Linked DNA regions of Homo sapiens. The protein of the gene in region 4 purifies or fractionates together with the protein of the main gene of each other region. This does not show direct contact. Each region holds a gene or a part of one and is shown on either strand. Other genes may lie near its edges. The genes, in order: LIN7A, ADCY9, PALS2 and SLC20A1.

What was found.
Region 1: the proteins of SLC20A1 (region 4) and LIN7A purify together in Homo sapiens (affinity purification with mass spectrometry; 3 studies listed by BioGRID and IntAct, with this or other methods). This does not show direct contact.
Region 2: the proteins of SLC20A1 (region 4) and ADCY9 purify together in Homo sapiens (affinity purification with mass spectrometry; 2 studies listed by BioGRID and IntAct, with this or other methods). This does not show direct contact.
Region 3: the proteins of SLC20A1 (region 4) and PALS2 purify together in Homo sapiens (affinity purification with mass spectrometry; 3 studies listed by BioGRID and IntAct, with this or other methods). This does not show direct contact.

The regions. Positions count from the first base shown.
Region 1 is NC_000012.12:80,934,935-80,942,522, reverse strand, and holds the start of LIN7A (protein lin-7 homolog A), read left to right. Parts: upstream 1-4,588; 5' UTR 4,589-4,800; coding exon 4,801-4,882; intron 4,883-6,689; exon of another isoform or gene 6,690-6,787; intron 6,788-7,588. UniProt on the Homo sapiens protein: Plays a role in establishing and maintaining the asymmetric distribution of channels and receptors at the plasma membrane of polarized cells.
Region 2 is NC_000016.10:3,966,443-3,973,465, forward strand, and holds part of ADCY9 (adenylate cyclase type 9), read right to left. Parts: intron 525-7,023; coding exon 1-524. UniProt on the Homo sapiens protein: Adenylyl cyclase that catalyzes the formation of the signaling molecule cAMP in response to activation of G protein-coupled receptors.
Region 3 is NC_000007.14:24,674,430-24,681,452, reverse strand, and holds part of PALS2 (protein PALS2), read right to left. Parts: intron 2,323-7,023; coding exon 2,120-2,322; intron 1,062-2,119; coding exon 933-1,061; intron 1-932.
Region 4 is NC_000002.12:112,641,088-112,648,959, reverse strand, and holds the start of SLC20A1 (sodium-dependent phosphate transporter 1), read right to left. Parts: upstream 3,022-7,872; 5' UTR 2,831-3,021; intron 2,398-2,830; 5' UTR 2,132-2,397; coding exon 1,798-2,131; intron 1,637-1,797; coding exon 1,496-1,636; intron 1,308-1,495; coding exon 1,222-1,307; intron 1-1,221. UniProt on the Homo sapiens protein: Sodium-phosphate symporter which preferentially transports the monovalent form of phosphate with a stoichiometry of two sodium ions per phosphate ion. May play a role in extracellular matrix and cartilage calcification as well as in vascular calcification.

The DNA.
Region 1 (7,588 bases), on a different chromosome or scaffold from region 4:
TTTAATTTCATCCGAAATATTTTAACATCTAACTCTGAATTAGTAACTCTTCATTCTGAAGTTAGTAATTTTTAATGCAGATGCTATGATACAAATATTTTTCTTAGCATAGATTGTATTCATACATTTTATTGTATGGTTGGCACAAAGAAATTAATGAAAGGTTCATTGTATTTCTGTTCATTAATTATATTACCTTCCACCACCTAACTCTCAATAGCTCTATTTAGGCTTGTTTTTTTTTTAATTATACTCCAAAATGAACTGCCGATTTTACCCAAATACACACTGTGCCTGCTTCCTCATCCCTGGCTTTTCTCTCCTGCTCCCTATAAGGCCATTCTCCCTATCCCTGTCTTTTGTAATTCTGACATTATTCTAGATCTAGTTTAGTCATCAATTTATTCATTCTTTGCACAATACTTAGTCACTAATTGCTCTCTTTCTTGTTTGTTTATTGACTTTCTCTTCCTTAGAGAATACAAGCCAAGTGAGAACAGGAAATTTTTCTTCTTCACTGCAATACCCCAATGCCTAGTACAGTGCTTGGCATATAGTCAGTATATTAAGTGTTTGTTGAATGAACAGACAAATAAGTAGTTATCAAAAAAAAAAGATAAACTAAATATAGTAAGATATTCTATGATGGTTTTAAAAAATAAACATTTAAATTTCAAAGTATTGGTTGGCACTTCATCTTAATCTAGTGCTGTTTTGACAAAGCTGTATGAATTAAGAAAGATAACATGTTATCTTGAATCAGTCAAAAACAATTTCTAACACCCAGGCTGAAAGAACTCCAGTTTGAAGGTGCTATTTTCTCATATGAAACTGTGCTCATTATACTTCATTTATAATCTAACTAAACACATTTCCTTGGTATGCTAATGCTCTATGCAAACCTTCTCTAGATTTTGTCATATAATTTTTAAAAATTCAATTAAGTGAAACCGACCTTAACATAGCTTTGAATGATTTTGTTAAGAACAGATTTTATATATCAAATAGGCAGTTGTTTAAATATTAACCTATATGTATATATAATGGAACCAGTATCATAGTTCTTTTGTCCTTTGACCTAACTTCCCTTCATCCATTCCTCTCTCTATGTCTCAAGCCAACACACACACAAAATAAAAGAGAGAGAGAAAAGACATGTGTGTGTGTATATATACATATAATATATCATATATATGTATTAAATATATTTCACATGTATTAAATACATTAATATTATATTAAAATATATTTATAATATATATTTATATCTCTTAAAAATATATATCTTAATAGATATATATTTATATATCTCTTAAAAGATTTTATAACCATATATATACTTATCTGGAATTCTGAAATAAAAGGCTGAAATCACTAAATCTTCAACAACATAGAATAAAGTGTGATGAGGCCCAGCGTGGTGGTTCATGCCTGTAATCCCAGCACTTTGGGAGGCTGAGGAGACGGATCACTTGAGGTCAGGAGTTCGAGGCCAGCCTGACCATAATGGTGAAGCCCCGCCTCCATAAAAAACACAAAAATTAGCTAGGCATGGTGGCGGGCGCCTGTAGGCCCAACTATTTGGGAGGCTGAGTCAGGAGAATCGCTTGAACCCCGCGGGCGAAGGTTGCAGTGAGCAGAAATCGCGCCACTGCACTGCAGCCTGTGCGACAGAGTGAGACTCCATCTCAAAAAAAAAAAAAAAAAAAAAAAAAGAACAAAGTGTGATGTTTCTTAGTGGAAAGCACAGGAGATTGTGAAGCCAGGTGCTACTATTCTTAAGCAAGTTGTGTAACCTCTGTGAGCTTCAGTTTACTTATCTTCAAAACGGCATAAAAATACCTACTTCTCTGGGCTGGAAAGAAAGGGAAAGAGAGACCAACTTAGCACCAAGTCTGGCACATATAAGTGCTCAATAAGTATTTATTGAATTAGTTAACTCCATGAAAATATAGTTACCATTAAACTAAATTTCTACATATCATTTAATGAAAGAGTGTAGTGATTTTGTAACCAAATAGCTAAGATAAAAGCATAATTACAAATATTTTAACAATTCTCAGGTAAATACACAGCAAAGCAACTGGCATGTGACTAGATCAAGTATATCCCTGCATGTCTCAAAACGAAATTCACAAATATTATTGGAGAGATAGTATTTATTCATAAAAACAAATTCTAATGGATAATGAATTTTTATTAATTTTCTACACCTGTGTAGACATAAGCTAAAGGGAATGAACTTTCCACTACTAAAAATAATAACAGATGAATTTATGGTGATTTATGCTTCCTTTTAATTTCTCTTTTAATCTTGATTTAAAAACAACAACAACCCTACAGAGTCAACACAGAGAAAGAATGACAGAGCAAATTTCAAATAGGAAGCTCAAGGCAGAAGTCCAGAAATATGCTATGAAATGTTTAGTCCTGAGGATGCATTAGGAAACAAAAAGACAAAGAAAACTCTACCTTCACTGACACCACAATCAGGGATTTGTGTTGGAATGGGTACAATTTATGACTTTTGGGCTGATGAATCAAGCTGCTTAAATACATATTCCCTAATAAAGGATGTTGTAAAATAACTACATTAGAAGTCAAGGGATTTGTATGTTCTTTTATCCTCAGTTACCGAGTGAGGTTTAATAACTTTGTGCAAAAGCTTGTAACACACTCTGGTATCATTGCGCTCATCTCAACTTCTTTCTGTTGCTTAATTCAGGGCATGTGAATAACGGTAAAAAACCAAAGTTGTTTTTGCAACCTCTGGCCACCGAGGGCACTTCCTTTTAATAGTGCTTAGAGTACTGCACAGAAGCTTATGGTTTGCTCACTGTCTCCCAAGCAAGACTGGGCAGAAAGGGGGCCATCTCATTAATCTTTGCATGGTTAGCACCTAGCACAGAGCTTACCACACGGTTCCAGGGGATGTATGCTTGTATAAATAAATTTGTATATTCTTTACTGTTTTCAAAGCACAGTCACATGTATGACTCCATTAGACCCTCATAAAACTCTGTGAGATTGCAAGGTAGAATTAGTTTCCTCATATGACAGATCTCTGTGACATTGAATGATATTATTTCCATTGTATGACAGAGGAGGAAACAGGATCAGTGAGAGATTGTGTGACTTCCGAAGAGTACATGACTAAGACTCAAATGTCAAGATCAGCATTCTTTCTTAAATACTAAATAAAAATAAACATATCGAACTACTATTTTAGGTTTGTTCTTAGGGTCTGTTAAGTCTATATATGGCCAATCATCTTTGGCTTTCCCACATTGGTGAAATGTTGTTTTTTAAAATTCAATTGTAGACTATAAAATGAAAAAGACCTTCAGAAATCCTATCTGTAATCAGAAGAAAATGGCATCAATTATATGCAAATATTTTGCTATAAAACAGTATCTGCCTTTTAGAGTTTATTGTTAGCCCAAACAATTCAGCTCTGTCACAGGAAACAAGATGGAGGCAGCTTTGTCATTTCCAATCCTGCACCCACAGTCACCCCTATTCAGCTTATAGAAGGTTTCTTTATGTTTCTTGATTTCGTAGTCAGGAAATGAATCCCTACTATGACAAGATAGTGAAAGTAGCCTTTTTATTGGGGCGAAGAGGTCACAGCCAGTATTTGAAGGCTCTCGTAATTTAATCCTGATCAACTGACTCTAAAGTCAGGTTTTTAATAACACCATCTCCCACTAGATTACAGGCTACAGGAAGTCGGAGACTAAATTGAACTCCTAAATCAAGGCGTGGCACAAGGCAATGTAACTCTTCTATCTCAATTCCTGGCATATATGTTAATCAATCGATAAGTGGCATCTCTGAACCACTGGTTAGAAATCAACATGAAAAGTGCTAGGTACATATTTTTCAAACGTAGTCATAGACAACCAAAATCAGTTTGGACATTAAGAGCAAAGTTTTTGTTGCTGGGTGGGTGAGGGGGAGTGGGGCATGTTTACAGGATGTGGTATGTAAAAAATTCGGAGAAAATCTGAACACTGTACTTGTTTCTAAGCTACATTTACTGAATTGGTAATGTATTAACAGTGGCTTGAAAAAGAAAAACTTAGCGATAGAAACTTACCTACACGTTTTTTATTTTGAAGCACTTTTAAGAGGTTTGCCTTTTTTTTTTTTTTTCTCCAGGCAATATACTCAGGTCCTAAATGAACATCTACTGATGGAACGCTGGCCTTTAGTCAGTTATCTTTATATGCCGTTATAGGTCAACATTCCGAAAAACTTCAACAGAAATTAACTGCAAATGTAATTACATCCCAAACATTTCTGATAATGGAAGCATTTTCTCTCTAAAGGGGATGGGATTATTGGATTGGCAATTTCTCTTAATCTGAGAAAACTCATCTCCCACTCCCTTCCCCATATCCCCTTTCCATCCTCTCTCTTCCCCTTATACACACACGCACCCGCATGCACACACGTATATTCTGACCATTTTATTAGAGTGGAAAGTTGAAAGGAAGCAACCCGCCAGCTACACCCACCCAGCGCTCCTGGGGGTGGAATAGCAAAGTTCTAGGGCAGAGCCTTCCCTCCCAGAGCCCGGCGATGCAGTCGCTCTCGGATACCTGCTCAGCTCCGCACCGCAACTGAAGATCTGCCGCCGCGGAACAGTTGCGTCTCCATCTGGCTACCAACCCACCCAAGCTTTCTTCTCCACCACCACCACCTTCCTTCCTTCCCCCTCCTCCCCCTCCTTTCCGTCTTCCCTCTCCACCCCCGCCCCCAATCTCCTCCTTTTTTTCTCACTACGAGCGGTTGCTGATGCTGAAGCCGAGCGTCACTTCGGCTCCCACGGCAGACATGGCGACATTGACAGTGGTCCAGCCGCTCACCCTGGACAGAGGTAAGGGAGCGGCTCGCTCGCCAGGCCACCGCGTCCCCTCTCCCCTCCTCCCTTCCCCGCCTGCCAATTCCCAACGGGACATGGGACGCGCTCAGGCAGGAGGAGAAGGGGAACGAGGACGAGCCAGGAAGGCGTTCGCGCCGAGAACAGAACACTTTCTTCCCCTTTCTCTCCCCGCTACGTTCCCGCTGCCCCTTCCCACTGTACTCGCCCCGCCGAGGGGACGCCTCCTTCTGGCTCTGGGGTCCCCGCTGCCACTCCCAGCCCCTCGCCGGGTCGTCTCCGGTCCTCTGGCTTTGTTGGAGCCGCTGCGCGGGGACGGCTATAGGCGCCAGGGGCTCGGGGTTGGAGAGGGGCAGAGAGCAAGCTCGCCCGGCCAGAGCCCAGAGGAGACCGGCGAGGGAGCCGCCTGTCAGCTTGCTTGGCGCAGGGGCCCGGGAGGAAGGAAGTTTGTCCAGGCGCCGGAGGGCGAGGGTCGGTCCAACTGCTGGAGTCCCGGCGGCCACTCGGGGGGCGGGCTGGGCGCACCCCTGGGCTGCCGGGCGCACAGTGGCGGGGCTGCAGCAGGCAGGGAGCTGCCCTCTGCCGAAAGGGCAAGGCAGAGCGCGGGGAGCCGAGCCCCAGCAGCCGAGATCGGCTCTCCGCGGCTTCGAGATCGAAAGCGGCGAGGGTCGCGTCTGCTCCCGCCGCCGGCAGCTCCCGGTCGATAGCAACTCTCGGCTTCTCCCGCGCCAGCCTCTCGTGTCCTCTCCCAGCTCGGTGCCACCGCGGCGCCCAGGCTGCGGAAGGCGCGGGGACAAAGCGCAGGTCGGGTTAAAATTCAACTTCTGACCTGCCACCCAGTGAGTCCTGCTCTCTGACTTGAACGGGGAAAGTGTTCGCTTCCTCCCCAGGACGCCCTCACAAGCTCAGGGATGGAGTCCTCCGCTGCGATCGGGGCCTCACTGGTGCACCCCTGTGGGGTTATACCTGTCCCTGAGTGTGTGGGTTTCCTTCCTGGCTCCAGCGTCCAGTGATGAAGGCGCTCGAGTCCTACGGCTCTGCAGAGGAGGACACCCTCTAGTCCCTCTCCGCAGCCGCCGGATTTAGGACCCTGGGCGGCCATTTGGAAATGGTGTACTCAGAAGAAAATGATTTAGTCCGATGTACCTCTAAAAATTTTCTTTCTAGAGGATTAAACTGAACGATGGGCAAGGCAAAAGAACATCCTGCTGAGAGTACAGTAACAAAGCCAGTGAACTCAGTTTGAGGTTTTTAATTTGGAGAGACTGTGGGTGACTTTAACGCAATCTGTTGGCGCCAGAACAGATGTTCTGTGGTGCCCATAGCAACCTTTCTTAGGGTAAGAGTTGAAAAATAAAATGTAATTGATTTTATATTAGAAAATGTTGATTTGTAAGCTGGCAAAATTAATAACAGTAGTTAAAGACCTCAGAAATCCATTGTATAATCCATGATTTTACCCACAATATCATCATCTGCACTAAGCAGGATAAATCCATTGCCGGTAAGAACCAAACAGATGGCAAGCTATCAGAAACTATGAGCTTCCCAAGTATTTATGTTTTAATGTAATGAGCTCTTATATTGTCCCATTACAAAATCACAGTCGTTAAACATCCCAAATCAAGTGACTATGTTAGGAGCAAAAACTCCAAGAAGATTGCATACCTGGGTCATTTTATATACTACCACTACTACTAATAATACAAATATTTCAATGTTGGGTTTTACCTTAGCCCTTAGATGCCTCAGTCGGTTGATGAGAGGAGGTGCTAATCGGACTAAGATTTATTTTTAAAGTTTGCTCTTGTTCACAGCCAAACTCTACTTGTCCTTCTGAGTGTAATTACGTACATGCAGTAGCTCAGGAGACAAGCAGGTTTACCCTGTGGATGAGTCTGAAAAAATTCATCAGCAGCTCATGGAAAATCTATAACCAAGAGATGATGGGTTATTGGCATCACCACTGAGCATAAAGTCAATATATATAAATATTGTTCTCCGTATCTTATTCAAATATGATTAATTACTTTCATTATTAAACTGATGAAGGAAAAGGTTCTAAAAATTTCCCTTCAAAAAAGGTGCATTTTTAAAGAGGCAACCCAGTATTACATATCTGGGTCCTAGCTGCAACTCTGATACTCACTCTGCATACATCAGCCTCTCTGGACATCAGATTCTCTCTGTGCCACATCAGGAGTTTGAATTAGATGATTCTAACACTGTGCAGCTTTAGCAGTCTATAATTCAATTAATTAGAGTTAGGACTCAGTTTTTGGTCACCTACTGGGAGATTTTCCAGATCACCTCTCTCCCAGGCTGCTTTGGTACCCTTTGATGCGCTCTAAATTGACTTGCTGCTTTGGCCCCATTAAAGCATTTATCACACTCTGTTGCATTTGTCTATCCCTATTGGATAGAACTCCGTGAGGGAAGAGACCATTTCTAAATTCATCTTTGAATTCTCAGTGTCTGCTATAGTCCCTGACTCACAGTACAATAAAAAAATAATGTTAAGTTGGTGTAAGTAAACTCAGGATAGCAGTAACTTAAGCAATGTTAAAATATAGTGATTTCCTAGTGAACTGAGGTGCATTTCATAGATTCACAGTATTTTAACCATGGAAAGGATGATAGTGATAACATAGGCCAGAGATTCTCAACCTAGCTTTCCCCTATACACTTGATGGATTGCCGTCA
Region 2 (7,023 bases), on a different chromosome or scaffold from region 4:
GCGGGTGGCTGCCGTCCTGGGCCTGCGCGGTGTTCAGCCCTGACGCCGCCATGTACGTGGCTCCGATGGTCTTGATCTTCTCGATGCTGCTGTAGTCCGGCTTGCTTAGGAGCTCGTCAAAGTCCCCGATGAGCTCGTTGAGGACCCGGTAGCACTCCTTGCCGCCCTCGTAGTTCTCCTCGTAGAACTCGCTGAAGTTGACGATGCTGGCGAAGATCACCCCTCCGCTGTCATGGTTCTTGGAGTAGGTCTGGGACACCTTCAGCTGCTCAGCCACGTGGTAGGGGATGATGTTCCTCAGCAGCCAGTCTGCCTGGTCCCGCATGCTCTGGATCTTGGTGCGGTGAAGATCCGCTTCCACGTCTCCGTGGTAGTGGAGGCGGTAGCTGACTTCAAATTCGCGATTCAGGAACCAGACCAACAAGAGCAGGAGAAAGAAGACGAGAACCACCTCCTGGCCGATGAGGCTGGCGGGCCGCCGGAGGTCACGCGGCACCGAACTATTGCACGGGTTCCTCTCGGAACTGGAGAGCAAAGACACGGGAAAGGGAGAGGTTACTGCTCGGCGCTTCCAAGCTCAGAACAGCCCCGCTAGCTACGCAAAGCTTTGTTGAGTCCAGGCCTTCAACAACCTGAAGCTGTCAAGCTGCCCATTCCTGGTTTGGGCTGGCTGAAGGTATGGAGGGATAAAGACTAACTTTTGAAACTGATTGATTTCATTTTGTTAAATAGAGGTGGGGTCTCACTGTGTTGCCCAGGCTGGTCTTGCACTCCTGGGCTCAAGCAATTTTCCTGCCTTGGCCTCCCAAAGTGCTGGAATTACAGGCGTGAGCTGCTGTGCCCAGCCCTGTAACTAACATCTTTAGTAAGTGCTTGGTAATCGTTTTTCTTTTCTTTTTCTTTTTCTTTTTTTTTAGAAGTCTTTAGCTTCTTTCAAAAATCTTTTCTTTTCTCTCTCTCCTTTGTTTTTTTAGAGACATGGTTGTTGTCCAGGCTGGAGTGCAATGGCACAATCATGGCTCACTGCAGCCTTAAACTCCTGGGCTCAAACGATCCTCCTGCCCAGCCTCCTAAGTAGCTGGGATTACACGCATGTACCACCACACCTAGCTAATTAAAAAATTTTTTTTTTGAAGAGACAGGGTCTTGCTGGTTGCCAAGGCTGGTCTTAAACTCGTAACTTCAAGCCATCCTCCCACCTTGGCCTTCCAAAGTGCTGGGATTACAGGCTTGAACTGTGCTTGGCCTAACATCTTTTTTTTTTTTTTTTTTTAAGATTGAGTCTTGCTCTGTTGCCCAGGCTAGAGTGCAGTGGTGCGATCTTGGCTCACTGCACCCTCTGCTTCCTGAGTTCAAGTGATCCTCCTGCCTCAGCCTCCTGAATAGCTGGGACTATAGGTGTGTGCCACCATGCCTGGCTAATTTTTGTATTTTTAGTAGAGACAGGGTTTCATCATGTTGGCCAGGCTGGTCTCAAACTCCTGATCTCAAAGTGATCAGCTTGCCTTAAAGTGCTGGGATTACAGGTGTGAGCCACTGCACCCGGCTTTTTGCTGAATGAACTTTTTGAAAGTAAGTTGCTGACATGGCACTTCAGCTCTAAATATTTCAGCATGTATCTCCTAAGAATAAGGATATTTCCCTATGTAACTACAATATCATCATCATACCCAAGAAATTTAACATTCTCTGATATATTTGGTTCTTAGATTTCTTTTTTTTTGAGACGGAGTTTTGCTCTTGTTGCTGGTGAGATCTTGGCTCACTACAACCTCCGCCTCCCGGGTTCAAGTGATTCTCCTGCCTCAGCCTCCCCAGTAGCTGGGTTCACAGACATGTGCCACCACACCCAGCTAATTTTGTATTTTTAGTAGAGACGGGGTTTCTCCATGTTGGTCAGGCTTGTCTCAAACTCCCGACCTCAGGTGATCCGCCCACCTCAGCCTCCCAAAGTGCTGGGATTACAGGTGTGAGCCACCGCGCCTGGCCTTGGTTCTTAGATTTCTAATCCAATAAACTTATCATTTTACAAATAGCTTTTATGAGTTCTATACTCTCTACCTGTATAAAAAAGTTTGACAAGACGCCATCTCCCCTGATTCTGGGTTAGTTCTTTTTGCCGAAATCACTCAGGACAATGCTAACATCTGAACCAGTGCCATTATTTTCTCATGGCTGTGCAGTGTTCCAGCACTCGGAAATTCTGTAATTTAGCCAGATTCCCCCTGATGGAACTGGGCCCGAGTCTGTCTTTTCTTACCACAAACAGTGTCACAGGGAATATTCCCCTACCCCTATCTTTGTGCGTATGGAAGTGCTGAGTCATTTTAAATATTGCACATTTAGAATTTCCTTAGAAATTTCCAAATTGCCCTTCTAAACAAGGCTGAACCAGTTTCTGCTTTTTTTTTTCTTTTTTTTGAGAAGGAGTCTCGCTTTGTTGCCCAGGTTAAAGTGCAGTGGCGTGATCTCGCCTCACCACAAACTCCGCCTCCTGGGTTCAAGCAATTCTCCTGCTTCAGCCTTCTGTGTAGCTCGGACTACAGGTGCACGCCACCATGCCCAGATTATTTTTGTACTTTTACTAGAGACAGGTTGGTCTCAAACTCGTGACCTCGTGATCCACCCGCCTCGGCCTCCCAAAGTGCTGGGATCACAGGCGTGAGCCACCGCGCCCAGTCTCTGCTCCCTTTGATAACTGAGCCTGCTTTCAGCGGGGCTGTCTCCACTTCAGTGGCACTGATGGAGACAGCCATGGTCAGGGGGCTGCAGATGAGTGGTGAGTAGCACAATTTCTTTTTTTCTTTTTCTTTTTTCTTTTTTGAGACAGAGTCTCACTCTCTAGCCCGGGCTGGCATGCAGTGGTGTGATCTCAGCTCACTGCAACCTCCACCTCCTGGGCTCAACGATTCTTGCGGCCCAGCCTCCTGAGTAGTGTGCGCCACCAGGCCCAGCTAATTTTTGTATTTTTTTTTTGGTAGAAACGGGGTTTCACCATGTTGGCTGGGCTGGTCTCAAACTCCTGACCTAAAGTGATCTGCCCGCCTCGACCTCCCAAAGTGCTGGGATTACAGGTGTGAGCCACCACACCTGGCTGAGTAGCACAATTTCTTAAAGTTTGTTTGAAATATATATATATATATATATATATATATATATATATATATGTATTTTTTTTTTTTTTTAAGAAGAGACAGGGTCTGTCTCTGTCATCCAAGCTGGACTGCAGTGGTGCGATCCTAGCTCACTGCAGCTTTGACCTCCCAGGCTAAAGCGATCCTCCCGCCTCAGCCTCCAGATTAGCTGGGACTACAGGCACACACCACCACACCTGGCTAATTTTTTGAACTTTTTGTAGAGATGAGGTCTTACTATGTTGCCCAGGCTGGTCTCAAACTCCTGGGTTCAAACTGTTCTGCTTCTGCCTCCCCAGTGTGCTGGAATACATTTTTTCCCATTTAAAAATACTACATACTCATCATAGAAAATGTAGAAAAAAATAGACAAAAAAGATTTGTCCATCGTCCTGCCATCCAGAGGCAATCACTATTAACATTTGTTGAACTGCATTCTAGTCTTTTTCTTTTTTACAACACCGTGACTGTTCTGTTCATGTAAATGCTGTACCCTGATGCATTCCTCCCGCGCACAGAGTAGGCCAGTTGATTTGATGCAATAATGGGCTTGGTCACTATATACTTATATATGCGACTGGCGGATCCACAGTTTAGACAGCTCCATCACACTGGAAAGCTCAATTCTTTTTCTTTTAGAGACAGGGTCTCGCCATCTTGCCCAGGCTGGTCTTGAACTCCTGAGCTCAACCAATCTGCCTGCCTTAGCCTCCCCAAGTGCTGGGATTACAGGGATGAGCCACCACGCCTGGCCAAAACTCAATTCTTCTTTTTTCTTTCTTGCTCTGTTGCCCTGGCTGGAGTGCAATGGCGCGACCTTGGCTCACTGCAACCTCCGCTTCCAGGTTCAAGTGATTCTCTTGCCTCAGCCTCCCGAGTAGCTGGGACTACAGGTGTGCGCCACCATACTTGGCTAATTTTTGTATTTTTTAGTAGAGACAGGGTTTCACCATGTTGACCAGGTTGGTCTGGAACTCCTGACCTCAGGTGATCCACCCGCCTTGGCCTCCCAAAGTGCTGGGATTACAGGCACGAGCCACCATGCCCGGCCAAAAGCTCAGTCCTTTAATCAAAGTGTCTAATAAGTTTCACTAACTGTTCTTGGGATATTAAAAAACAATGAGCTTGACCTGTGTGGCCATCACGGCCCTCTGCGAAGCACAACCGCCAAAAGCCCTGGCCGTGGGTGGAACAGAACCCCTGGGCCCCATCCTGGCTGGACCGCGGGGGAGTTTCAGAATCTTGGGTAAGCCATGCCATCTTTCTGGGTCTCAGTTTCCTCGCTTGTAAGCTGTGAAGATGGACTGGAGCATGGCTACGTCCCTTCCAGCCTAAGGTTCCGTGCAGGAAAGGCCTGAGGCTGCCATCCTTGGAAAGACCTGCCTGCAAAGGTGGTGGCTGGCACCAGGGAGCTGGGATTTGGGGAGGGTTCCTGCCATTCCTTGATAAGAGCGGCTCACACTGCCTACACTGTCTAAATAAGGAGGTTTACGCTGAATACCCGCTTTCCTGCTGGAAGTCTGGAATTTAGGCACGTGCTGGGCAGAGGCGGGAGACCTGAACAGCCCCTAATACAAGCCTGGACACCGAGACTTTAATGAGCTTCCCTGGTAGGCAGCATGTTACAAGTGTTGTCACCACTCACTGCTGGAGGAATTAAGCCCATCCCGTGTGACTCTACCGGGAGAGGACTCTTGGAAGCTGGTGCCGGCTTCCTCCAAACGTCAACTCACACACCCTTCCCTTTGCTGATTCTGCCTTATGTCTTTTCGCTGTAATCACAGCGGTGAGAGAGCAGATTGCGGAGTCCTGAGTCCACCTGGGGCTGGTCTTGGGAGCCCTGATACGGGCTTTGTGACTCAACGCCTATGACCAGGAACCAAGAGTCCTCAGTGGGAAGACACCCTGTGCTTCACTGACTCATTTCGTGAACTGCTATTGAAACAGATGACATTACATATCCTACATCTCAAGTACTAAGCAAAATAACCATTTGTTACGATGATGACTCAAACATATTTCTGTCCAGCTCCATGAGCCCTCTGGTTGATTGTAAATAGAGCAGGAAGAGAATATGGACTGGGGGAAGGTTTTGTGAGCCCCGCTCGTTGGGTTAGGAGTTGACCTTTCTTTTGGTTTCTCAAAGTGGTGACACCAAGAACAGTCCCCTTTAGGAGCAGGTGTCACCAAGGTCTAACATCCCCATTATGTGCAGGGGGTGTTTCCAGTCTCTGTGGTGGAAATGGGAGACTGTATCTGGGCTTCTCAATCAGTTATCGCTTGTACAGCTCACTCTAATCTGCGGGAGCCGGAGCCAGCAGCACAGCTGACTCGAGACGGGCGCAGGCCAGGCCCCTCCAGGCAGAGGAGGGACAGCAGCACATGGGCTAGTGCCAGAGGGAGAGGAAGGCAGAGCACAGCGTTTGCTTTCCACCTTTGCTTCCAAGGAAGAAAAGCCATCACACACAGCATGTGCACTCAGAAACCAAGGGGGCTGCCTCGCAACAGAAGGCATCTGTAAGAAACAGGTACGAGGACAGCTTCCCAGCTAGAATGTGTGTTTCCTATTTTAATACCAAAGGAACAAAGGAGCCGATCCTATTCCTAAATTCAAATAGCAAAGATCCACTTCAAAAAGAAGAATTTCTTTTTCTTTTCTTTTTTTTTTTTTGAGATGGAGTCTTGCTCTGTCCCCCAGGCTGGAGTGCAGTGGTGCGATCTAGGCTCACTGCAACCTCTGCCTCCCGGGTTCTAGCAATTCTCCTGCCTCAGCCTCCCGAGTAGCTGGGATTACAGGTGCCCGCCACCACGTCCAGCTAATTTTTGTATTTTTAGTAGAGATGGGGTTTCACAAACATGTTGGTCAGGCTGGTCTCGAACTCCTGACCTCAGGTGATCCACCTGCCTCAGCCTCCCAAAGTGTTGGGATTACAGGCGTGAGCCACCACACCTGGCTCAAAAAGAGGCATTTCATGTGACTAAATGCAGGAGTTAATTTATAAGTCATAAATGGAAGTTAGAGTAAAATACAGTGTAATCCGTTATCATGGAGAAGAGGGATTGAAAAACTGAAAAAAATAGAAAGCAAACATCACTTGCAGTCCTAACCAGCCAAACGTGGCTTCGGTTGACACTTTGGTATATTTCAGTGCCATTTAAAATCTGCCCCTAGGGAGGTGGTCAGGTCGGGGGAGAGGGGGTCAGCAGCGGTGGGGTTGGAGGGCTTCTGGGGTAGTGGTAATGCTCTACTTCTTGGTCTGGGTGGTAGTTAAATGGGTGTGTTCTCTGGTGAAAATGCACTGAGCTGTCCTTTTATGATCAGGTACTCTTCTGTGCATACTGACATACACATCAATAAAAGGTTAAAAAAAGATGCTAGGTGCTTTACTTTTAAGTACTAAAGCTGTAATCATCACTCATTCATTATATCCTAAGTATAAATCTTGTACATATTTTTACTATATATAAATACCTAGTTGTACCTATAGTACATATATAGTTTCACCTAGTAAATGAAAATCTTAAATGTTTTCCATATTTACTGCATTTTAACAGTTGTATTATTTGAGTAAATGTATAATCAGTTAATTTATTTATTATTGACAACTACAGTTGCTAATGAATCTTTTTTTTATTTTATTTTATTTTTTGAGACAGAGTCTCACTCTGTCGCCCAGGCTGGAGTGCAGTGGCCGATCTTGGCTCACTGCAACCTCCGCTTCCCAGGTTCAAGCAATTCTCCTGCCTCAGCCTCCCAAGTGGCTAGGATTACAGGTGCCCACCACCACCCCAGCTAATTTTTGTATTTTTAGTAGAGACGGGGTTTTGCCATGTTGGCCAGGCTGGTCTTGAACTCCTGATCTCAGGTGATCCACCTGCCTTGGCCTCC
Region 3 (7,023 bases), on a different chromosome or scaffold from region 4:
TGGTATGTTTTAAATGTCTTTATCTCTTAGATATAAATACTGAAGTATTTACAGATGACATGATATCAAAGATTTGCTTCAAAATAATTCAAGGTGAGGAGGAAGTGGGGAGGGGTCTAATTAAAACAAGAAATTGCCACGATTATTGAAGCTAGGCGATCGGCATAGGGACTCATTTATTCCCTCTTTTGTATATATTTTTGAATTTCCATTAAGTAAAAAAGTAGACAGGAAAAAAAGGAAAAAACATGTAATAGAAACTAAACATCAGAACACCCCACTTTACCAATGATAAACCATATAATAAACATGCCTGTTAATGATCTCGGAGCCCAGTTACCCCACTAGTAAAATGAAGGCGTTCAATTAATACGCATATTTTAATATTGGTCCATTTCATTTTACAAAGGGGAACTAAACTTTTGATTTAAAATAAAGTGTACAATGATTTTCAAGTAAAAGAATACTGTTCCAGATCCTAACTACATCTAATTAATTTTCATTCTGTAGCACCTTATATAGCATGTTTATTTCATAAGCATAATTAGCTAAGAGTTGGCCAGGCACGGTGGCTCACGCCTGTAGTTCTAGCACTTTGGGAGGCCGAGGTGGGCAGATTGCCTGAGGTCAGGAGTTCAAGACCAGTCTGGCCAACATGGTGAAACCCCGTCTCTACTAAAAATACAAAAATTAGCCAGGCCTGGTAGCGCATGCCTGTAATCCCAGCTACTTGGGAGGCTGAGGCAGGAGAATCGCTTGAACCCGGGACGGGGAGGTTGCAACGAGCTGAGATCGCATCAATGCACTCCAGCCTGGGTGACAAAGCAAAACTCTGCCTCAAAAATAAATAAATAAAAATAAATTAGATAACAGTTAAACATGCTCAAAAGAAAAGGAAAGATTTTAGAAGGAAAATCGTATGGTTAGCTCACGGTCAGAAGCTTGGTAGTGATTCCTGCATCCACCACAGCCTTGTGCATGGCACGTAACGTCTCTAGCTCCGGAGCCGCAATAAATACCACATAGGGCATAAACTCTGATGTCCTCAATACTTTCAGTGCCTGTGTAAAAGAATAATTATAAGCCAATTTATACAATATTAGAACTAGAATTCTGCTACCCTTTAGTATATATCAAAGGCTGTTTGCACTTGTTCTATGAATTAAAGGACATAACTTAATACTTATCCCTGTTCTGTCCTTCTCATTCCATATAGTACTTTCTTAAAACAGTGATCCATTTATTTTGTTTTGAACTCAGTCTGTTCCTCTTGAACAAAGTATAAAACAATGATCCAAAAATCATCAAGAGTGATGTAAACTCTTTTTTATGTTAATTGTAGAATTCTGTTAATACTCAAAAAGTAGAAATAACCTCAATGTTGATTAATTGGAGAGTGGTTAAATGAATATATATTCATACTATATAGCAATTACAAAGAAAAAAAGCTCTACAGTAACTACCACAAAAAGATCTCCAAGGAATAGTTCTATTTAATAAAACCCCTGAAGAATCTATATAGAATTTTTCCATTTATGTAAAAAGAAACAACAAAAACAGAAAACCCATTACCTTATATATATTTGTATTTAAGGCATAGTGAAATGACTAGAAAGAGACATAAGAAACTATTAACAATTTTTATCTCTGAGTAGGGACGTGAGGTTGGGCTGAGTGTAGCGGAGTGGGAAGGGGTAGGTGACAGAAATATAGAGTGACAAAATGAATAGTGTAGAGGTGTGCATGTGTGTCAGGTAGGAGGGGGAGTGACTTTAATTTTTTATTCTTTATATTGCAGACTTGAGTTTTAAACTTAACATTTCTTAACACAAGCACTTATGCATTACTTGAACAGGTAAATAAATACATACTAAACTTCTATTGTAGATCTAATCACACAGTTTCTATTGCCACCCAAGCCTCTGTTGGCTAATTGTTCAGAGATTTATTTAACTAGCTATGTATACATAATAACATTCTCTATCACCCAAAGGTAATGGAGGGAGTCACCTTTCCACCCTGACAAAACAAACAACCCCAACCCAACAACCCCGACACACATGAAAAAAACTCCACAGAAAATAAAATATAAAACAGCTTTGGAATCCAAGCAGCTTACTTGTGGGTTGACATCCAGAATGCAAGTCCGTCCAGTTTGGACAACCTCAAGAATAGAATCAATTTTGGTTCCATAGAGATTTCCTTCATATTCCCCATGTTCCAAATACTTTCCAGCTTTAATATCTGCTTCCATCTCAGATCGTGACACAAACTTATATGCCTGGCCATCTTTTTCATCTTCCCTTGGTTTCCGTGAAGTAACTAAATAAAATAGTGTTGAGATTTTTGTACAAAGAAATTTTAGGGCATAAAAAATAGACTAAAATACATAGGGTGGCTTAACGTTTTTCCACTGGGTGCAGCAAACTGTAGGCTATGACCAGATCTGATCTGCTTCTTATTTTTGTAAATAAAGTTTTATTGGACCACAGCCATACTCATTTGTTTATGTATCATACATGGTTTCTTTCCCATTAAAATGGTGGTAGTAATTGTGACAGACTGTATGGACTGCGAAGCCTAAAACTTTACCATGTGGCCCTTTAATAGAAAAGTTTCTTGATACCTTAGGGGAATATTTTAAGAGGTAGTCCCCCAAATAAAATTTGTATCCAAAAATATGCTTCTTAAAATCACTTTGAAACTCAAAGTATATTTACCTAGCAGCAGAGCCTTCAATGAAGTTCTTAATTATGGTAAGTGTTTGAGGCATGTTGTGAGTGAGTATCTTTTCAACTGACCAGCACTCTCCTTCTCCTTAGGAATCTATTACATCTTTTCTTTCCACATTAACACTTCCTAACTGCCCCAAAACGTGAGCAAGCAAAGTTCACCTGTTCTTAGTTGTGATACCAATTTTGTAAAGTGCAGTTTTACCCACAAATTATCTATCTTTTATCTTACCTCAAAACCAACGCTTTTAGCTTCCTGTTTATTGATATTCCCAAATGTTAACTGTTCTATTTTATACTTCAGTGGTAGAGCTAGACGCCTCATTATTATTATGGTCTATTAACCTCCTCTCCTCTGACCTGACATATTATTTCTGGGAAAATGAGATTGAATAGCTCAAGTCAAAATTTAGAAGTAGGAGATCCTTTTGTCTGATATTTTACAGCTTTGAATACTTTCAGAGACATACAACCCTTTGCAAGTTGGTCTGTGCTAGGAACGGTTATTACCATTTTTTAAACTGTTGCAAATGTGTACTCTCTGACAACTTTGTTAACAACAGCTTTGAAGAAGAAAAGTAATTTTTGAGCGTGTTATTTCAAGCTTAGCCTTACTCTGGGCTTTGCTGGATCGGATATAAGAAGTATCCTGTTTCTATTAGCTAAGTAGTTGGAGAATAACTGATGGAATTATTAACTACACCAAACTAAACTAAGAAAGTAATCCGAATAAAAAGATGACAGTGTTTTGACTATTTCTAATAAGCCTAAGACATAGAAAACTTTTATAAGAACAAAATGAACTTCAAACTCATGCTCAAAAATAAGGGTCAAATGAGATCATTATGTATAATAGGACTCCTGTTTTCCCCTTGTTTTCTGGCTCAACCTTGAGAGTGGTCGTCTTAGACTACTGTGAAGAGTATTTATAAAGTATCTTTGAGAATCTTCAAGATGCTATGATGGCTTTTCATATTTAAAACTGTGTGATCTTTAAGGTTTCTGGAATTAGTCACCAAAGGTGTGTATAATAAAACTTCTCAATAAATGTAATCCAGCATATAAACAGAACCAAAGACAAAAACCACATGATTATCTCAATAGATGCAGAAAAGGCCTTTGACAAAATTCAACAGCCCTTCATGCTAAAAACTCTCAATAAATTAGGTATTGATGGGACGTATCTCAAAATAATAAGAGCTATCTATGACAAACCCACAGCCAATATCATACTGAATGGGCAAAAACTGGAAGCATTCCCTTTGAAAACTGGCACAAGACAGGGATGCCCTCTCTCACCACTCCTATTCAACATAGTGTTGGAAGTTCTGGCCAGGGCAATTAGGCAAGAGAAGGAAATAAAGGGTATTCAATTAGGAAAAGAGGAAGTCAAATTGTCCCTGTTTGCAGATGACGTGATTGTATATCTAGAAAACCCCATTGTCTCAGCCCAAAATCTCCTTAAGCTGATAAGCAACTTCAGCAAAGTCTCAGGATACAAAATCAATGCATAAAAATCACAAGCATTCTTATACACCAACAACAGACAGAGAGCCAAATCATGAGTGAACTCCCATTCACAATTGCTTCAAAGGAATAAAATACCTAGGAATCCAACTTACAAGGGATGTGAAGGACCTCTTCAAGGAGAACTACAAACCACTGCTCAACGAAATAAAAGAGGATACAAACAAATGCAAGAACATTCCATGCTCATGGGTAGGAAGAATCAATATCGTGAAAATGGCCATACTGCCCAAGGTAATTTACAGACTCAATGCCATCCCCATCAAGCTACCAATGCCTTTCTTCACAGAATTCGAAAAAACTACTTTAAAGTTCATATGGAACCAAAAGAGAGCCTGCATCACCAAGTCAATCCTAAGCCAAAAGAACAAAGCTGGAGGCATCACACTACCTGACTTCAAACTATACTACAAGGCTACAGTAACCAAAACAGCATGGGACTGGTACCAAAACAGAGATACAGATCAATGGAACAGAACAGAGCCCTCAGAAATAACGCCGCGTATCTACAACTATCTGATCTTTGACAAACCTGAGAAAAACAAGCAATGGGGAAAGGATTCCCTATTTAATAAATGGTGCTGGGACCACTGGCTAGCCATACATAGAAAGCTGAAACTGGATCCCTTCCTTACACCTTATACAAAAATCAATTCAAGATGGATTAAAGACTTAAACGTTAGACCTAAAACCATAAAAACCCTAGAAGAAAACCTAGGCGTTACCATTCAGGACACAGGCATGGGCAAGCACTTCATGTCTAAAACACCAAAAGCAATGGCAACAAAAGACAAAATTGACAAATGGGATCTAATTAAACTAAAGAGCTTCTGCACAGGAAAAGAAACTACCATCAGAGTGAACAGGCAACCTACAAAATGGGAGAAAATTTTCCCAACCTACTCATCTGACAAAGGGCTAATATCCAGAATCTACAATGAACTCAAACAAATTTACAAGAAAAAAACAAACAACCCCATCAAAAAGTGGGCGAAGGACATGGACAGACACTTATGCAGCCAAAAAACACATGAAAAAATGCTCACCATCACTGGCCATCAGAGAAATGCAAATCAAAACCACAATGAGATACCATCTCACACCAGTTAGAATGGCAATCATTAAAAAGTCAGGAAACAACAGGTGCTGGAGAGGATGTGGAGAAATAGGAACACTTTTACACTGTTGGTGGGACTGTAAACTAGTTCAACCATTCTGGAAGTCAGTGTGGCGATTCCTCAAGGATCTAGAACTAGAAATACCATTTGACCCAGCCATCCCATTACTGGGTATATACCCAAAGGACTATAAATCATGCTACTATAAAGACACATGCACACGTATGTTTATTGCGGCATTATTCATAATAGCAAAGACTTGGAACCAATCCAAATGTCCAACAATGATAGACTGGATTAAGAAAATGTGGCACATATACACCATGGAATACTATGCAGCCATAAAAAATGATGAGTTCATGTCCTTTGTAGGGACATGGATGAAATTGGAAATCATCATTCTCAGTAAACTATCGCAAGAACAAAAAACCAAACACCGCATATTCTCACTCATAGGTGGGAACTGAACAATGAGAACACATGGACACAGGAAGGGGAACATCACACTCTGGGGACTGTTGTGGGGTGGGGGGAGGGGGGAGGGATAGCACTGGGAGATATACCTAATGCTAGATGACGAGTTAATGGGTGCAGCACACCACCATGGCACATGTATACATATGTAACTAACCTGCACATTGTGCACATGTACCCTAAAACTTAAAAGTATAATAATAAGAGGGGAAAAAAAAAAACCTTAAAAAAATAAAAAAATAAAAAAACTTCTAAGGCAACTTGTAACTCCCCAAATAAATGCATAATAGGACTTGGTTCAACATTGTGAACATTAATTTTAAAAATTAATGTTTTTTCGGTGAAGTCCTACAGTGAAACCATATAGGGGAATGCGCTGCTTGAAATAAATATGTATATGCACATGTATTACCTCTACCTCCATGCTGAGGGAATCTTAATTCTTAGAGAAATGTTCTTTAGTTTACAAGTGAATTTTAACTACAATCCTATTCTCTACTAACACTTCAAAAAACAATCTACGTTGCCACATATTTAAACTGCTTTCCATTTCTAGAACAGAGAAATTAGAACATGAAGGTTTGACTACAACTGATTCCTTAGACTTCTATACTGCGCAACTACATAATGTGATTTTTTAGAAGTAATTTTTTATGATAGGCAAAATTCTCAATTTTAGCTGCTCTTCAAATAATGAAGACACAATCAACAAAGTAATACTTCATTTGTTAACTAAGCTCAAGATGTCAAGATGTCAATGTTAAATTGAAAACAGGATGCATAACATAGCCCATCTCCCTAAAATAACAATGTTTTTCTATTTTATCTTAGGATCATTTTGTAATATATAAAGAAAGTTAAATCACCTTAATTTTATAACAGAAAATTTTAGAAATTCAAAAATATATGGAAAATAAGCAATATACTCCCAAATAACCAATGGATCAAACAAGCAATCACAAGTGAAAGAAAATACTTTGAGAGGAGATGGTGCTGTTGAAGAGCACAGTTACAGACAGAGCTGACCAGGCTCTTCCAGAGTGCCAGTTGTCCAGCAGCATGTTCATTACCCTGAAGATGTATGATGGTTGAACTAAACCCATTCATTCTAAGAAAAGGTTCTGTGGAGGGCTTTAAGCCCTTGATAATTGTCTTAAAAGCTACTGATGGGA
Region 4 (7,872 bases):
AAGTAGCAAGATATACAGTTCTAATGAAAACTCTAAAAAAAACAAAAAAATCTGGTCCATGACTACTGGTGAGCCTCTAATTTAAGCATCCCAGTATCATACACTACAGTTGTAGGGAGTGGGAAGGTAGATGCTTATCGTACCTGTCTGCTGAATAAAACAGTACCAAACTTAGGAGTCCATAAATATCAATGAACTGTTTACTCTCATATTATACCAGGCTAAAGATATTTCAAGTTTTCAAAGTGTTAAACTGCTATATTCTGCCAGATTCTGGCTATGGAAAACAGTGATTAGTGAATCACTTTACTAGTCATAGAATTTCTACAGAGAAGAGACAAATCTTTCCCTAGAGAAGCTTACAACTAGACCAGACAAGTGGGTCTGAATACATTCTTACCTGCTGGGATTTATGCTATCTCCCTCAGATTTCTACAGTTTAGGAACACTTTTAAGAACTTACAATGGATTGTTAAGAGCCATTCACCTTAGAAAAAGGACAACTTTGTTTCCTGAGAAAAATGCATTTATCCTCACTGTAACTCAGTCCTATGCCAACATAATCCCTTGTCAACATTTATTTTGCAGCCAGCAAGACTTCTTGATAAAAGAAATGCAAACTGGGTCACTTAAAAGGGATTTTCAAATGGACAGGAAATTAAATGGCTGCCTGAAGTTTTTTTGGGGGGCGGGCCAAAAACTACCTTTAACTGGTTCTTTTCAACTATTCTGAGAAATTGGAGTCAAGTCACTATGGGAGGCAGAGTCCTCATCTAGAAGCTTATAAACTGGTTATGATAATCAGCACGGCAGAGACCCATTTAACTGGCAGCTTAGTTAAAAAAGCCACAGGGGACACTGTCTTGAACTCCAAGTTTACGTATTATATTAGCCTGAATATAACAGTGGTTTAAACAAATAATGTGTATACAGCTACACAAAACCACGCAAAATAAATTTCCTTATTTTTTTGCTCCCAGTTTCTCCTACTTCTTGGCACATCATAGTATTCAATTTTTCCTTCCTGACTGCCCTCTTGAGTATTAAAAACTCGCTTTCAGAGAACTCCACAACATACAAGAAATGCACAGAACAAAGAGCTTTTTAAAATTTTCCAAGGCCGCATACCTATACACCAATCACATCTGCAAAAGTACCACTGGGTTTGAAATCGATTGGGTGTGCTCCATGAAAGGTCTTCATACGGGGGAGAAAGGTTACCTTATGGAGGATGAATGCACGAACCAGGAAGAATAAAATTCCAGACATAATTCCAGAAAGCAGTGGGGACACGAACCAAGACATCACTGGAATAGAACACATTAAGAAAAAATATCAAATAATGAAAATCAGAAACCAAAAACCACTTTAAATGTTTAAGAGTTCAAAATTCTTGGGTCTGTCCCTCGACGTTAGAACACATCCTCCCATACCTAATGCCATGGTAACATATGACGAAAACGAAAATTAAGAAGCCGTTTGGAATTAAACATACCAATTTTTATCAGTTCAGACCACTTGACACCCTCCTGCCCCTTTGCCACGAGGGAGAAACCAATAGTTGCACCAACAATACAATGGGTTCCAGAAATAGGGAGCTTCAAAAACGAAGCCACGAGTTGCCACACAGCAGAACCTGAAACATAGTAAAGTTTTATTAAGTAAATATCAAAATTCCATTATGTAAGTGGCACATTCAGAAAGGTTAATCGGAAAGGTTATGCACAAAAATGGAACCACCCATGATACAAATTTGCTCACCCACCACGAAGAGGACAAAACATAAAAAGAACTTACCAAACATAGCACTGACTGAGCCGGCCATCAGCAGCCCTTGAGTCGAGTTGTACATCTCCACGTCAATCAAGCCCTTCCGGATGGTTTCGCTCACTTTGGCCCCCAGTAAGACAGAGCCCACTGTTTCAAAGATGCTAGCTAGGATGCAGGCTTGCTTCAGGGTCACTACACCTGAGCCCACAGCTGTACCAAAAGAATTTGCTACATCATTGGCTCCCACGGAGAATGCCAAGACAAATGCAATAATGAAGCCCAGGATGAGCATCCATAGGTAGTCCACCAAAGGACCAGAAGCGGCGGTAGCAGCTGTAGTACTGGTAATCAGCGTTGCCATTCTCTGGAGTAGTGGTTGTTTAGTAAGAGAACTACTGAGCGCCTTTCAAGATGTGTAAACAGAATATGAGGTATCAAAAATGCTATAATAAATAATATATATTATATAAAATTAAATACTGTAAACTACGGCACAGAAACCGAGCTGGGGAGTTACTGCTATACGCTGCGTATGGGCATCTGTTGTCTGGGGTTTCTTTGGCTCAGGAGGGCTAAAAGCACGGAGCAGAATTCCATGGCGGAGAAGAGAAAGGACGCAAGTTCATCCTGCGGGGGAGGGGGGAAATAACAATAGCTGCGTGCCCCTGGGGGGCCAGTGGGGCACCCCGCTCTACCCACGCGCCCGGGGTCCCGCAATAGCCTCTGCCGGCTACTCCAGACCCCCATCCCCAGTAGGACGCGCGAGAAGGAGAGGCACGTGGCTCCGGGTCCTCCGCGGCCCGCGCGCGCCCAGCCCAGCCCCTGCGCTGCCAGCCCGCGCGCGCCCTCCGCGCGAAAATCGGAAAAGGGCCGTTCCCGCGCGCGCCGCCCGGGGACCGCCAAAAAGGCCCGCGGGCGGGCAGACGGGCGGAGTGGAGGCGGCCAGCGGCGAAGAGAGAAGCCAGCCGCGCCGCCCACGGCGTCCGCCTCCAGCGCCACGGCGTCCGCGCCCGGCCCCGGGGAGAAGAAAGAGCCTTTACGAGGCGGCGCCACTACTCACCAGGGAAAAGGGAGGGCGGAGCGGGAGACGAGGAGATCGAGGCGACAGCGGCTGGAGCCACGGGCACACGGCCCGGGTCGGCGGCACCGGGGACAGCTCAGCGGGACTCACGACCTTCCCAGGAAGCAGCCGCGGGGGTTTCAGCGGCCGAGAAGAAGAACCACGCAGAGAGCGCCGGCAGCCATCACTCCAGCGGAGCACCCCGCCGGCCCCTACTTATAGCCCGCGCAGCGACCCGCGTGACCCCGCCGCGCCTCGCGCCGGCCCCGAAGCCCCGCCCCCGGCATGACGCAGCCCTCCTCGGCCCGGCGTGCCCAGCCGGGTGAGCCCGACGGTGGCGCTCATTGGCCCGGCCCGCTTCGGCGGCCACGCCCCCAGCGGGGAGCCGGTCCACGTGGGGCGGGACAGCCCCCTCCCTGCGGCCTCGCCCTGGAGTCTCGGCACCGTCTGGCCCCGCCGGCTGATTACAGCCAGAGATCGAGGGGGACCTCGCTGTCCCCCTAGAGGCCGTCATGCGGGGTTACAGAGGCTGCGACCAAAGTCATTCCTAGCTCCTCTCTCGGGGCTCCGGAAAGCCGTCCGCGCCTCCAGCCGCACTTTCAGCGCACGCAGGACCTGCCGCGCCCGGTGGCCACACCCGTCCCTCTGCCGGGTGACGCTGCGGGAGATCTTGCGCCCTGGGGCTCCGGATCCAGTTCTGGCACGTTGTTGCACCTGTGACTTGTCCTTGGCCTGGCACTGTCCCTCGCCTGGGGGAAGCGGGGGGGTGGGGGGGGGATGCTCACGTGGTCGCTTTGCTCCCGCAGTCATGCACTTGGGTGAAAACAGACTGAAGAGTCACGGGAACCAGCTTGTCTCCCCAGTTATGGCGCAGAGCTGCAAGGATGGCTGTGGGTCATTAATTTCTCCGTGGCTGACCTGTGTTTGTAACGCCGCAGCTGTTGCGAGGGGGAAGGACACTGCTTCGGATTCAAATTCTGACTCCTTGCTGCAGTGTGTCACCTTGAGCCAGTCCCAGATCTCTGCGTTCTCACAATTGTAAAATGTTAACAGAGGCTGCCTACCTTGTGGCTGGAATTAAATGAATTAACGTGTGTGAATGTGACTAGAATTCAGTACATGTTCAGGAAAAGCTGATTTCCGCTTTGCTGTTACCGTGAATATTACTGTTTTAGGGTGTAGAAAAGGGTGGAAGGGGATGTTATTGCATCCTGGAAGCTTATCCTTTTGAGGTAAAGATTGATTTCTGGTCCCCTGCGTGGTATATAGTGTAGTTTTGACATTATTTAGATGTGTTATGCACATTTGGGTGTTGATTATATGGCTTACGATCAAGACTAACCAGTCATGCCGTGGGAGATTAAGGTCGTGGTCTCTTGTCAGGATTGTAGTGAGATTTAAAAATTCCAGCCAGAAATACCAGGCTTAGAATGCTCTGAAGCCCTCCCCACATTTTTGCCATCTCTAGCAGGAGGGCACTGCATAGCAGAAACAAAGACGTTGTAAATTGTTGCTGCCTGAGTCATTTATAGAGGCTTAAACAACCTGAATGTCCTCTGACCTACCTGTAACATTTGATGGAGTTGTATGAGTAACTTACAAAGCTGTAGGTCCCAAGGTCGGTCTGAAAAAGAAAGTTCATATCCGGGAGCACTGACCCCGTAGTGTAATCCTGGCACCTTAAAACGTACTGCTCCCTCCACCTTCACTTCAAGGTTATGAAAACATTGAGTAAAAGGGATGATCTGTTCAAAGTCCTTAGTGTTCTGCCAATTTAAAACAGTAATTTTCAAAGCAGTTATTTGCAAGGAAATTGCCTAGAACTTCTCCCAGTGTGCGGTTGTTTTGTGTGTTTGTGTGTGTGTTTTGTTTGTTTGTTTTCAGTCTGTCCACAGGCGTACTTTTATAGGTCTGTGATAGTAGGTAGCTCTTCAAGTTGGCAAACACCTGCTGGACAACCCCTGAGAGATTCATCTGAGTGAGAGAGCACTCTCCAGCCCCATCGGAGTGGGTTTGCAGGGAAATCATAAGGTAGAGATTCAAAGGAATTCCCTTGCGTTGCAAATGAAAACTGTATCTTCAGACTCTGATATAGTGTAATCCTTCCTTTTTAGGAAGAAATCCTTATCTTTCCAACACTGAGATGCTTCTGCCGAAGAGTAGAATGGGAGGTGAGGAATTGGGGTGGGCCCTCACTGCTTTGCCTCCGGATCAGTAGGGTACAGCCCTTGGAGACCAGGATCTTCCTTGGCTGGGACACCTTCGTCCTCCCCTAAGGGAGGAGAGGTAGGGATCTGCCTGTGGAAAGAAGTTACAGTGCCTTTTAAATAGAAATAGGAGGTAGGAGGACCGTCAGTTGTCAGTTCGTGCACAAATGGCATTGTTTCTGGCCTTATCTCTGAATGCTGAGGAAACAGGTCAGAGATCCTAAAGAGAATCTAATCTCTTAGAATCCAGGCATTGGCACAAACCCCCTCTAGCATCTTAGGGAGGTGGTTTGGTGTAGTGGTTAAACACATAGACTGTAAGACCAAACCACCTGCTCTGTCACTCACTAGTCCTGTGACCATAGGCAAATAAATTATCTGCCTCAGTTTCCTGATCTGTAAAGGGGTGAGATTGAGACTTCTAACTCACAGTGCTGTTGTGAGGACCAAATGAATGAATATATGTAAAGCCCTTGTAAAAGGGCTCTTATTCTCTTTGTTCAATAACTAGCTGAAGGCCTGTCATACATAGCCCATGTTTAAAATGAAGTATGTGTCAGATGTCAGGACCACCCTCTTCTCCCTGCCCTCTGATCCAAGCCCTTTCAAATTTCTCCCACGGCTCATAGTGAGGGGACACGCAAAACGGGCTGCTGCCGGAGGAAGAGGAACAGTGTTGTGGCTCATGCCATATGAATGGGCTCACTGGCCTGGCCCAGACCCTGACTGCCCACAGGATCTTTGGTGAGTCACTGTCACTGAGCCTGTGAGCCTAGGGTCCCTCTCCAACCTCACCCTCAGAGAGGACAGAACAAGATGACCTGTGGCATGCTGCAGAACACCATGTTGGGGACTGTGGGTTTAGAGTCCTCTTGGGGACATGTCCATCGTTCACTAATTCGGTGGAGTTGAGCTGCTGAGAGCTAGGAAAGCTACTCTCCCCCCGGATCCCAACCTAGCCCTGTGGAAGACCAGACAAAAGAAGGAAGCAATGACATTTCTGCACTTTTTAGTTCAGAGAGGCACAGTCAAGGAAATGCATTTGAGGTCACTGTTCGATGTACTTGAAGTACTCATCCTGGAAATAGTCTACTTGGAGTAGAGGGAGCTCAAGTGGGCATGGGAACGTTGTGGAACCAGACCAGGAACAAAGGCGGCTTCAGAGGCCGTCTGTGAGGACTTGCATGGGAGCAGGGGCGAGAACATCCAGGGAAGAGAAGGTAGGAGCCTTGGAGTAAAGGAGAACCAGCTCCTCTCCACCCACCAATGCCCTCCCCATCCCCAGATGAATGAGGTAATAATAATACCTGTAGCTGGACATGGTGGCTCAAGCTTGTAATCCCAGCATTTTGGGAGGCCAAGGCGGGTGGATCACCTGAGGACGGGAGTTCGAGACCAGCCTATCAACATGGAGAAACCCTGTCTCTACTAAAAATACAAAAATTAGTTGGGCACGGTGGTGCATGGCTGTAATCCCAGCTACTTGGGAGGCTGAGGCAGGAGAATCACTTGAACCCGGGAGGCGGAGATTGCGGTGAGCCAAGATCGTGCCATTGCACTCCAGCCTGGGCAACAAGAGCAAAACTCCATCTCAAAATAATAATAATAATAATATCTGTGATGCAGTTGAATGCTTACTGTGTGCCAGGTACTATTTCAGGTGCTCTGCATGGATTATCTCAGGTGATGCTCTCAATAAATCTCAGATGAGGTATTTTCCCCTTACTTTATAGACAGAGAAACGGAGGCACAGAGAAGGAAGCGGCAGTTAAAGCTGCGAAGAACCTAACAAATTTCAAGATTGTAAGTGCCTTTTCCCAGGATGCCAGCAAGTACTGAGGCAAGTATGATTGCCCTAGGTGCCAACTCTTATTTGCACTTAACACATTTACTTCCTCCTTCTTTCCCCCTCCTTTTTATTAACTCTGTTGCTTTTACAGCCTGTATTTTGAGCTGCATCAAACCCTGTTGGAATAAAAAAGGACATTTCTAGGAGATCAGTCTTCGAGATTGGCCCCAGTTTCCCCAGAGTAGGAAGAGGCAGGAAGCCAGAGCACATGTTCTCTCCAGAAATAAAGTTGTTGCAGTGGCCTAACCGTGTCTTAGAGTTACTGAAAACTCTGTTCTCTTGAGATTTCTCAAGAAAGGAAACCTATCTTGCAAGACAAAACCCACCTGTAGTCAATTCCTACAGGAAATAAATTCAAAATAATGTTTCAGGCAAGGGCCACATGTCACCACCACCACTTTCCCACCAGCTTTGAATGTGGCTGTCCTCTGTGTCTCCAGTCATTTCCCATTTCCCCCGGCATCTGTGGCTCTGTCCTGGCAGAGTCCAAGGGATGCTTGGGATCCAGGTGGGGGAAGGGTGCTTGAAAGCACCCAGACAGCCAAGCCCTGATATGGAGACTGGTTGAGACTGGTTGTGACTGGTCTCAGGCCAGCATCCCATGGCAAGAAAGCTGAGTTTTGGTTGTGCCAGACAAACTGGTGGGTCTATTTCTCCGCCAACACAGGAGTATGGGAGGTTGGCCCACCCTCTCTAGATTTTACATGCCTCTGTCCTGGCTGCACATGGCCTGGTCTCTTCCCTTTGGCTTTGAGTTCACACATGTGGGTGTGATATGGCATAGGAGCCAGGCAGAGGGAACAGAAGCACAGTTCTTAGAGCTTGAAATGGTCCAGGTGTCTCTGGAGCCAGCTTCTGGATAGCACAGCATCCTGAATACTTCTTTAGGAAGACGTCTCTGGTGACTTAAACTGGGACTTCTCGCTTTCCCCAAGGCCCAGTTTTCTCAGCTCTTAAACAGGGAAGAAAGGCAACTTGCTGGAAAC